2 separate regions of the Homo sapiens genome follow, and region 1 is reported to be linked to region 2. Evidence: microRNA targets listed by miRTarBase, many of them from high-throughput screens and not tested one by one. Region 2 holds a microRNA gene; the other region holds the end of a gene's coding sequence.

Region 1 (5,385 bases), not on the chromosome of region 2:
TTTGTTATTGGAAATTTTGCTAATGGCTTCATAGCATTGGTAAATTCCATTGAGTGGGTCAAGAGACAAAAGATCTCCTTTGTTGACCAAATTCTCACTGCTCTGGCGGTCTCCAGAGTTGGTTTGCTCTGGGTGTTATTACTACATTGGTATGCAACTCAGTTGAATCCAGCTTTTTATAGTGTAGAAGTAAGAATTACTGCTTATAATGTCTGGGCAGTAACCAACCATTTCAGCAGCTGGCTTGCTACTAGCCTCAGCATGTTTTATTTGCTCAGGATTGCCAATTTCTCCAACCTTATTTTTCTTCGCATAAAGAGGAGAGTTAAGAGTGTTGTTCTGGTGATACTGTTGGGGCCTTTGCTATTTTTGGTTTGTCATCTTTTTGTGATAAACATGGATGAGACTGTATGGACAAAAGAATATGAAGGAAACGTGACTTGGAAGATCAAATTGAGGAGTGCAATGTACCATTCAAATATGACTCTAACCATGCTAGCAAACTTTGTACCCCTCACTCTGACCCTGATATCTTTTCTGCTGTTAATCTGTTCTCTGTGTAAACATCTCAAGAAGATGCAGCTCCATGGCAAAGGATCTCAAGATCCCAGCACCAAGGTCCACATAAAAGCTTTGCAAACTGTGACCTCCTTTCTTCTGTTATGTGCCATTTACTTTCTGTCCATGATCATATCAGTTTGTAATTTTGGGAGGCTGGAAAAGCAACCTGTCTTCATGTTCTGCCAAGCTATTATATTCAGCTATCCTTCAACCCACCCATTCATCCTGATTTTGGGAAACAAGAAGCTAAAGCAGATTTTTCTTTCAGTTTTGCGGCATGTGAGGTACTGGGTGAAAGACAGAAGCCTTCGTCTCCATAGATTCACAAGAGGGGCATTGTGTGTCTTCTAGCAGAAAACAAACTGGTGGTGTATGAAACATTTTATATTTCTTACTGGGTTTTCTGTAATATATGTATATGAATAATTTCCACATGTATACCTAGAAAAGTCTTTTACCTAAAGTTAGTCTAGAAAAGTACATATATATAGATGTGTGTGTGTGTGTGTGTGTGTATGAAAAACTGAAGAACATTGACAATAACATGCTTTTTATTGTTTTTTCACAAAAACTGCCAAATTATAGAAAATATGACAAAAATTCCTCAATTATGAAGCCATGTTTATTTCATACATGTATTTTATATTTCATTTGTAGAATTTATATCTATTTATAATTATTAAGAACTAACAGCTTATCTCAGGAAAAATATTGCTCTTTTCTATTGTTATTTGAATGACACAAATATACCACAGTGTGCTTACAATCTGTTGTTTTAACCTATAACTTTTTGATAATAAGGTCGTTCAATTCTTAATCACTAATGAGGATGTATCTTCAGGGTTTTATTCCATTATGAATTCCTATTTTATGTTTAGTAAAAAGCAATCAGAATTATTGTTACAAAACAATGAACACAATAAAATTTGAGTGAGAAGTATACGTATAGTAAATTTCATGTATGTGTACCATAAACAGTACTGAGGAATATTAGATTTAATACAAGTATGTGAATAGCTTAGAAAAAAATCTCTGCTATAAGAGGGATGAAAAATCATGATCATGATCTTGATTGCTATTATCAGCTTCCATATGCAGTTAGAACAGTCATTTCTTCCAGCTTTTCAATTAAAGAAAAACTTTTTTTGAAATTGAGCTCAGATGTAAATTATTTTAGTATTTTTTCTAAAGCACTTCTAAGCCCCTGAATTGCTAATTATATCCTTATCTTCCATTTTTAAAATTCTTTCTAAACTTCAGATAAGAGAACTCCAGTCTTCCGTTTTCTAAAAAAAAATCTGTCAATGTGAAAATAGTATAAAAATTATGGAAAATAATTCAGTGAAACTTTTTTTAAGTGTTAAAATAGTATCTATGAAATCTATGTATTAATTATGGGATTTGTCCTAGTGTAATTTTGTTGTCAATGATTAAATGGAATTGTCTTGACATATTCATTAATGGGAAGTTCTATTATAAGAAGGAAATGTACAGTCTTGTTTACAGCTAAATTCTACATGACTGTATTAATTCTTGGTGTTATGAAATTTTAACAATGTTGTTCAGACCTTAAGATAAATCATCCCCACACCTGATTCATGTATTTTTTAGAATCATGTATCTTCCTCAGTACAATGTAAGAACCATAAAAGAAGAGATCGTGTCTGTCAGGCTTTCTGTTGACTCCCAGGACCTAGAACCCAGCACAAGGAATAGATGGTCAAAAATGATATTTTAATGAACAAATAAATGGGTGGATAAAATGGGTAAGCTGATGTGGTAAACCAATGAAAGGGAAACTCATCACAAAATCTGCAGTTGCATGAGTTCCCCTGTTCTGGTCTCAGGTTAAGATTACAGGCTTATCCAAGCAGAATCCTTCCTCAGAGGAAAAGTTTGGCTATTCCACAATTTTAGGGGAAATATCACAATAATATAGTCTTGATGCAGCTGTATCAGGTGTCTGAATTGGCGACAAGGTAGAACATCAAAATTAGATGCCACTATTACAATATTTTAAAAAAGCATATAAAAGACTTTGGTCTATTTGCGTATGTATTTTTTTCTATTGTGAATTATATATTTGTATTATGATATTTTCTAGTTGATTATCATATAAAAATGGCATTTCATTTCAAAAAATTGAGTTAGTAACCAGCTACTTTACTAAAATGTTTTTAACGTAATACCTGATATTAAAGTGATGACATTTATATGGAAGGCCAATTCAAGACAAAAATGGCAGGGACATGTGGAAATTGAGACAAGAACCGATGTGAAACAATGTGTGGTGATGTCTGGTATGACTGCTGGCAGCCACTTCACAGTGAGGTGAGAGAGACAGCATGGTGGTCATCAGATGCATGCACTTGACTCCCAGAACTTTTCCAGAAGGGCTACAAAGGGAAACCACAGCTGGCATTAGTCCATGGAAGAGAGAGAGAGGAGGGAGAATGTATCTGCTCAGCTGTCGTTAGTCTTCTGTTTCCCCTTGGCCAGGGTTTCCCTGAGTTAGAACTACCATCTCTGTTGTTCTGTCTTACATCATCCAGTCCCTTGGTGGTGGTCATGAAAGTCAGACCTCATGCCCACAGTGTGGTGATGCATTCAAGTCCCAAATGGAAGGATGATCTGGATCAGGCAAGGTGCTGACCAGGGGAACAGGAGATAGTGAAGGGAATCTGAGAAAGCACATGTTTGTGTCCAATACCACCACTCCTTGTGCCACTGAGACGTGCTCATACCCTCCAGTCATGGCTGGCTTTATGAGCATATGACTTGCACAGTTGTACAGGGTTTTGTGCTTATAGGGGCTTGTGCTTAGAGTGACTCTATGCTTGGATTAATGTTCTGCACTTGCTGTTTGGCTTTTCAGACAGAGTATACTTCAGCATTCCCTCTGCTGAAGAGGGAATGGTCTTACACTGGTCTTACACTGATTCCATAGGGATTTGCTCTCCCCTCTCCTACAGGCTTGTCAGAGACATGCACAGAGTCCTATAATGCCCACTATGCATGCCTCTAGCAGCTTTGAATTCCGCTGGATCATCTGGCACAGTGGCCAGAGCAGCCTGGACCAGAGCCTATATCTTCTGTAGAGCCCTCTTTAGTTCTGGGCTCCATTTGAGACCAGTAGCCTTTAGAAACATCGTTCGTGAGTCAGAGCAATATTCTCAAATGTGGAATATGTTGTCTCCAAAATCCCAGTAGGCCCCCAAAACATAGTGTCTCTTTTGTAGTGATAGGAAATATATAGAGAGAGCAAAATGCCGTTTACTGTAAAAAAGATTGTCTCAGCATGTGGACTAGGGACACTAAAAACCTTAAAACATCACCTATGTTGTCGGTCCCTGAATCTTCTCTGATTTATCTATTTTCTTCTGGTATTTTACTTCTGCTCAATGTTATAATATTTTACTATACTGAAGAAACTTGCCATTTCCTGATTATTGTACCAACTAATATATTATTATTGGTATTATTTTGAGACACGGTCTCTTTCTGTCCCTGAGGCTGGAATGCAGTGGCAGGATCACAGCTCATTGCAGCCTCAACCTTCTGGGCACAAGTGATTCTCCCACTTCGGCATTGCTGGCAGCTGGGACTGCAGGGGCACAACACCATGCCTGGCTAATTTTGGTATTTTTTGTAGGGCTGGGATGTCACCGTGTTACCCAGGCTGGTCTCAAACTCCTGGGCTCAAGTGATCTGCCTGTGTCGGCCTCCTAAAGTGTTGGGATTACAGTCATATGCCACAGGGCCCGGTCTGTAATATTATCAATACATTAAACTGGCAGGATGTTTTAAAAAATGTAAATTAAACTGAGAACAGAAGTGACATAGCCCTGACATACAACAGTGAAGCAGTGCTATTATTCTTACAAGGCAAATTGTTTTGATTTTCCCTCATAATGGGTGTAGATTAAGAACCATTCACCAAATCACTAGCCCCACAAAAAGTACCAGAAGCTCTGCTCTGCTCAGTGAAGATAGCACATCCTGGAAAGCATTTGTGAGTGTTGATTTAAGTTTATGGTAGTCTGCATTCATTCGATAACCCATCTGGTTTTGGTAGAGGCCAGATAGGTTAAGTGAATCGGGTTATAGAAAAGACTACCATCCCCTGTAACTTTCAGGTGTTTTGTCATGACAGTGACCAGTTCCATTCCTTAGGGAATGCGGTTATTATATTTTATATATTTTGTTGCCAGTAGAGGAGAATTTCAGAGGCTTTCCCTTGGTCCTGCTATAATAATGTTCCTTACTCTACAGTTCACGAAGAATGTGAGAGTCCTGCCAGCTGCCATACGTATCCATTTCAATTCAGGAAGAGGTAATAACTACAAACTGATTAGATCCACCTTGGGATGGACATGAGCCGAAGCTCTAGGTAGCATCTGACCTTCAAAACTCCCACTGCGGGCTGGATGTGATGGCTCATGCCTGTAGTCCTAGTACTTTGGGAGGCCAAGGTGTGAAGATCCCTTGAGAGCAGGAGTTCCCTGTGCATCATATGGAAACTCCGTCTCTACAAAAAATTTTAAAAATTACCTGGCATGGTGGTACATGCCTATAGTTCCAAATAGTTGAGAAGCTGAGGCAGGAGGATTGCTTGAGCCCAGGAGTTCCAGGCTGCAGTGGGCTATGATTGTGCCACTGTACTCCAGCTTGGGTAACAGAGGGAGATGCTGTCTCAGAACAAAAAAAAAGGTGGAAGTTCTCACTGGTGTCAAATATCAAGAGAAACAGGATCAAATCAATAATTAACAATCTTTGGTTCCTGCTTATAGCAAACAGGTAAAATTGAAAGTAGTTACAGAAATA
Region 2 (5,385 bases):
AGAAAGCGCTTCCCTTTGCTGGATTACGGTTTGAGAAAAACAACACTGAAGCTGATGCCGATCGTGGTAATACATTTGCAGAGCATGCTTATCATCAGGCTTGGACAATGCCGGGGTTCTGTTTTCGGTTTTGCTTTTTTATTCTAAGACAGGATCTCTGTTGCCCAGGCTGGAGTGCAGTGACATGTCCAACCCAGGTCTCTTGAATTCAAATGGTCCTTTTTAGGGGGCAGAGTCTTTCTCTGTCACCCAGGCTGATATGCAGTGAGGCGATCTCGGCTCACTGCAACCTCTGCCTCCCAGGTTCAAGCAATTCTCCTGCCTCGGCTTCCCAAGCAGCTGAGATTACAGGCGTTCATCACCATACCTGGATGATATTTGTATTTTTTAAAATTTATTTATTTATTTATTTTTGAGACGGAGTCTCGCTGTCACCCAGTCTGGAGGGCAGTGGCACAATCTCGGCTCACTGCAACCTCTGCCTCCCCGGTTCAAGCAATTCTTCTGCCTCAGCCTCCTGAGTAGCTGGAATTACAGAAGCACACCACCGCACCTAGTTACTTTTTGTATATTTTTTTTAAGTAGAGACTGGATTTCACCGTGTTGGCTAGGCTGGTCTCAAATTCCTGACCTCAAGTGATCCACCCACCTCTGACTCCCAAATTTCTGGGATCACAGGTATGCGCCCCCATGCCTGGCCTAATTTTTGTATTTTTAGCAGAGACGTGGTTTCACCATGTTGGCCAGGCTGAACTCAGCTCCTGACCTTAGGTGATCTGCCCGCCTGGGCCTCCCAAAGTGCTGAGAATACAGGCGTGAGCCACCGTGCCTGGCCATTAACACCTTTTGGTCCACGGAAATTATTCTGGCACTGGTTTATAGAACCTCGCTTGGGGTCAGGTAGAGTTGAAGGGGACCCCAATGTCCTTGCAGGTGGGATGTGCACTGCTTAGCAAGAACACGGAGGTGGAATGCATGGGGTTTGAGTTTTTATTGGAGAAATAAAGCCAAAATCTTGGGTGCATGACCAGGTCGTATATGCAACAATACGGGCGTCTCACTATGCCGCCCAGGCTAATGTGGGCTTAGATCCTCCTGCCTCTGCCCCTCCCCAGTCCTTAGTAGCTGGGACTACATGTGAATATTAACTCACGTACAGGAAGAGGAAAGTAAGGACTGTTCTTTGATTCACGTCCCACCCCCAGTTAAATTTGTATTTTAGATAAACAATGTATTTGAGATGTACTTGAACAACAAATGATTTGCTGTTTAGATGTGAGCATCTTTTTTTGCTCCTGATTTTAAACATAGGACAAGGTCAGGTATGGTGGCTCACGCCTGTAATTCCATCATTTTGGTAGGCAGAGACAGGAGGATCACCTGAGGTCAGCTGCTTGAGACCAGCCTGGCCAACATGGTGAAACCCCATCTGTACTAAAAATACAAAAATTAGCCATGCGTGGTTGTGCTGCACGCCTGTAATCCCAGCTACTCAGGAGGATGAGGCAGGAGAATCGCTTGAAGCCGGGAGGCAGAGGTTGCAGTGAGCTGAGATCGCGCCAGTGAACTACAGCCTGGGCAAAAGAATAAGATTCAATCTCAAAAAAATAAAAAATAGGCCAGGCACGGTGGCACACACCTGTAATGCTAGCACTTTTGGAGGTCGAGACGGGGGCATCACCTCAGGTCAGGAGTTGAAGACCAGCTGCGGCATCACGGCAAAGCCTCATCTCTACGAAAAATACAAAAATTAGCCAGGTGCAGTGGCAGGTGCCTGTAATACCAGCTACTCGGGAGACCAAGGCAGGAGAATCGTTCCAACTGGGCGGCAGAGGTTGCAGTGAGCCAAGATCGTGCCACTGCACTGCAGCCTGTCGACAGAGTAAGACTTGGTCTAAAAAAAAAAAATAAATAAATAAATAAAAGATAAATATGGAACCATCATGAATTTGGGTGTCACCTCTGTGTGGGGGCCAGGGTAATCTCTGTCAATCCAATTTTTTTTTATGTGCACCAGCAAAGCAAGCACTTATGTTTAGGTATTATTCTTCCTGTGAGCATACAATATGTAGATCTTTATTTTCTTTGAGACATGGTCTCAAAAATGTATGATGTGGCTGGGCACAGTGGCTCAAGCCTGTAATCCCAGCACTTTGGGAGGCTGAGGCGTGTGGATCACCCGAGGTCAGGAGTTCAAGACCAGCCTGGCCAACATGGTGAAAATCCGTCTCTACGATAAATACATATATATATATATGTATATATGCCGGGCATGGTGGCAGGTACGGGTAATCCCAGCTACTTGGGAGCCTGAGGCAGGAGAATCGCTTGAACCTGGGAGGTAGAGGTTACTCATATCACTATGAGATTGTTTTTTGTTCTTGTGTGTGTGGTTTTTGTTTGTTTTTGAGACAAGGTCTGGCTCTGTCACCCAGGCAAAAGTGTAGTAGTGCGATCTCGGCTTACTGTAACCTCCATCTCCCACCTATGCGTCCTGAATTAGTGTGTCTACAGGCATGCACCACCACAGTGGGCTACCTTTTTTTTTTGAGAGGGAATTTTGCTCTTGTTGCACAGGCTGGAGTACAATGGCAAGATTTCAGATCACTGCAACCTCCGCCTTCCGGGTTCATGTGATTCTCCTGCCTCAGCCTCCCAAGTAGCTGCGATTACAGGCATGCACCATCACACTTGGCTAATTTTGTATTTTGAGTAGATACAGGTTTCCCCATGCTTGTCAGGCTGGTCTCCAACTCCTGACCTCTAGTGATCCACCTGCCTCGGACTCCCAAATTGCTGGGATTACAGGCATGAGCTACCACACCCAGCCACCTGGCTAACTTTTGTAGTTTTTCTACAGACTACAAAATGGTTTCACCATTTTACCTGAGACTACAAAATGGTTTCACCATTTTACCTGAGACTACAAAATGGTTTCACCATTTTACCTGAGCTGGTCTCCAACACCTGAGCTAAAGTGATCCTCCTGCCTCGGCCTCATAAAATGTTGGGATTAGAGGTGTGAGCCACCGTGCCTCACCCGTACTTGTGTATTTCTTTATTTTTATTGATTTATTTATTTTGAGACAGAGTTTCACTCTTGTTGCCCAAGCTGGAGTGCAATGGCACAATCTCGGCTCAATGCAACCTCCTTCTCTTAGGTTCAAGCGATTCTCCTGCCTCAGCTTCCCGGGTAGCTGGGATTAAAGGCGTCCACCACCACACCCAGCTAATTTTTGTGTTTTTAGTAGAGACAGGGTTTCAGCATGTTGGCCAGACTGGTCTCAAACTCCTAACCTCAGGTAATCCACCTGCCTCAGCCTTCCAAACTGCTGGGATTACAGGCATGAGCCACTGCGCCTAGCCTCAAGTGGTCCTCTTAAGTCAGCCTAAACTGTGGTCTATCCTGGAGGATGCTTGTGTGTGTGACAATTTATATTCTTCAACGTCTTAGATTCTATTTTGGAGGCTCCCAAGGGGATTGTGTGTCCCTGTGCTGGAACTCAAGTGAACACTTGGCTGTACATCCATTGCTGTTCTCTAGAAATTCAGCCCAATTCTCTTGGTTAAAGATAAGGTATGTGTAGTAGGCATTGCTTTTTCTTTCCAGAGACAAAACTCAGGAGGATTGCCCCTTGATGAGCAAGGCTAACCTGCTGATTCTTTGAAGCAAAGAACCAGAGATGGTCCTTTTAGGGGTTTATGTTCTGGATTCCAGAAAACAGGCAAACAGGACCAATAAATATATTTTTATTTTTCTATCCACTTTAACCTGGTCAAGGAAAATTCCAACAAGAAACCCAGAGTGCTGGAGTGAGAAGATCCCATGCTGTGACCCTCTAGAGGGAAGCACTTTCTGTTGTCTGAAAGAAACCAAAGCGCTTCCCTTTGGAGCGTTACGGTTTGAGAAACTCAATGTTGAAGTTGATGCTGACTTCAGTAATACATTTGTAGAGGATGCTTATCATCAGACTTGGATGATATCGGGGTTCTGTGCTTTTTTTTTTTTTTTTCTCCTAAGACAAAATCTGTATTTTCCAGGCTGGAGTCCATAAGCACTTCCAACCTAGGTCTCTTGCGCTCAGATAGTCCTCTTTTTTGGGACAGAGTCTTGCTCTGTGACCCAGGCTGGAGTGCAGTGGCGTGATCTCGGCTCACTGCAACCTCTGTCTCCTGGGCTCAAGCAATTCTCCTTCCTGAGCTTCCTGAGGAGCTGGGATTACAGGCGCCTGACATCATCCTTGGCTAACATTTGTATTTTTCTTTTTTATTCATGTATTTATTTACTTTTCAGATGGAGTCTCGCTGTCGACCAGGCTAGAGGGCAGTGGCACGATCCCGGCTGACTACAACCTGTACCTCTCAGGTTCAAGCAATTCTCCTGCCTCAGCCTCTGGAGTAGCTGGAATTACAGGAACACACCACCAGGCCCGGCTACTTTTTGTATTATTATTATTATTATTATTTTTTTTTTTTTTCACTAAAGAGGGGGTTTCACCATGTTGTCCAGAGAATACAAGCATGAGCCACTGCGCAGCCATCAACACCTTTTACTGCATGGAAATTATTCTGGCACTGGTATAGAACCTCACATGGGGTCAGGTGGAGTTGAGGGGACCTCAGTGTCCCTGCAGATGGGATGAGCAAGAGCACGGAGGTGGAGTGCATGGGGCTTCAGTGTTTATTGGGGAAATGAAGCTGAAATCTTGGGTGCATGACCAGGAAATAAATGCATGAGACAGGGGTCTCACTGTGCCGCCCTGGCTAAAGTGGTCTTAGATCCTCCTGCCTCTGCCCCTCCCCAGTCCTAGGTAGATGGGACTACATGTGAATATTAACCCATGCACAGACAAGAAGAAAGTAAGGACTGTTATTTTGTTCGTACCCAGCCCCCAGTTAAATTTATCATATATATAATATATCATATATATAACATAATCATATACACACAAAATGCTGATTTGAATACAGAGAATACTCTGATATCACTTTGGGTATTTTTTGGTTTGTTTCTGTGTGTGTGTGTTTTATTTGTTTGGTTGGTTATTTTTGAGACAAGGTCTGGCTCTATCACCCAGGCTGGAGTGTAGTGGTGCGTTCTCAGCTCACTGCAACCTCCGCCTTCCACCTAAGCCTGCTGCATTAGTGTCTACAGGCATGCACCACCACACCCGGCTCACTTTTGTATTTTTTGTACACATGGGGTTACACCATGTTGCCGGGGCTGGTCTCGAACTCCTGACCTCAGGTGATTCTCCCGTCTTGGCCTCCTAAAGTGCTAGAATTAGAGGTGTGAGCCACCGTGCCCCACCTGTACTTGTGTATTTATGTTAAAATTGTGTTAAGGAGTTTTTATGACCAAGCCTGTGATCTATTCTGGAGAAT

Evidence for each region. Region 2 holds the annotated microRNA hsa-miR-518d-5p (CUCUAGAGGGAAGCACUUUCUG, at 3,838-3,859, shown strand). A microRNA usually pairs through its seed, bases 2 to 8, with sites in the 3' UTR of a target mRNA and lowers its output. Matches are read on the target gene's strand: a 7mer-m8 pairs with bases 2 to 8, a 7mer-A1 pairs with bases 2 to 7 and ends in A, and an 8mer does both.
Region 1: miRTarBase lists TAS2R30 as a target of hsa-miR-518d-5p. Seed matches in the 3' UTR shown: 7mer-A1 at 1,030-1,036.

What each region holds. Positions count from the first base shown.
Region 1 is chr12:11,128,812-11,134,196 of GRCh38, reverse strand. TAS2R30 (taste 2 receptor member 30) reads left to right here. Exons shown (of 1, transcript NM_001097643.2): 1 at 1-1,239. The coding sequence ends at 912. All of the region lies in intron 1 of PRH1-TAS2R14 (PRH1-TAS2R14 readthrough), which reads left to right. All of the region lies in intron 1 of PRH1-PRR4 (PRH1-PRR4 readthrough), which reads left to right. It also overlaps a transcript of PRH1 not described here. Among named protein-coding and RNA genes, the nearest start is that of TAS2R30, 3.1 kb to the left of the region's middle.
Region 2 is chr19:53,731,055-53,736,439 of GRCh38, forward strand. It overlaps MIR518D (microRNA 518d), which reads left to right and starts at 3,823; the gene lies at 3,823-3,909. It overlaps MIR518A1 (microRNA 518a-1), which reads left to right; the gene lies at 1-36. It also overlaps the pseudogene RNU6-980P.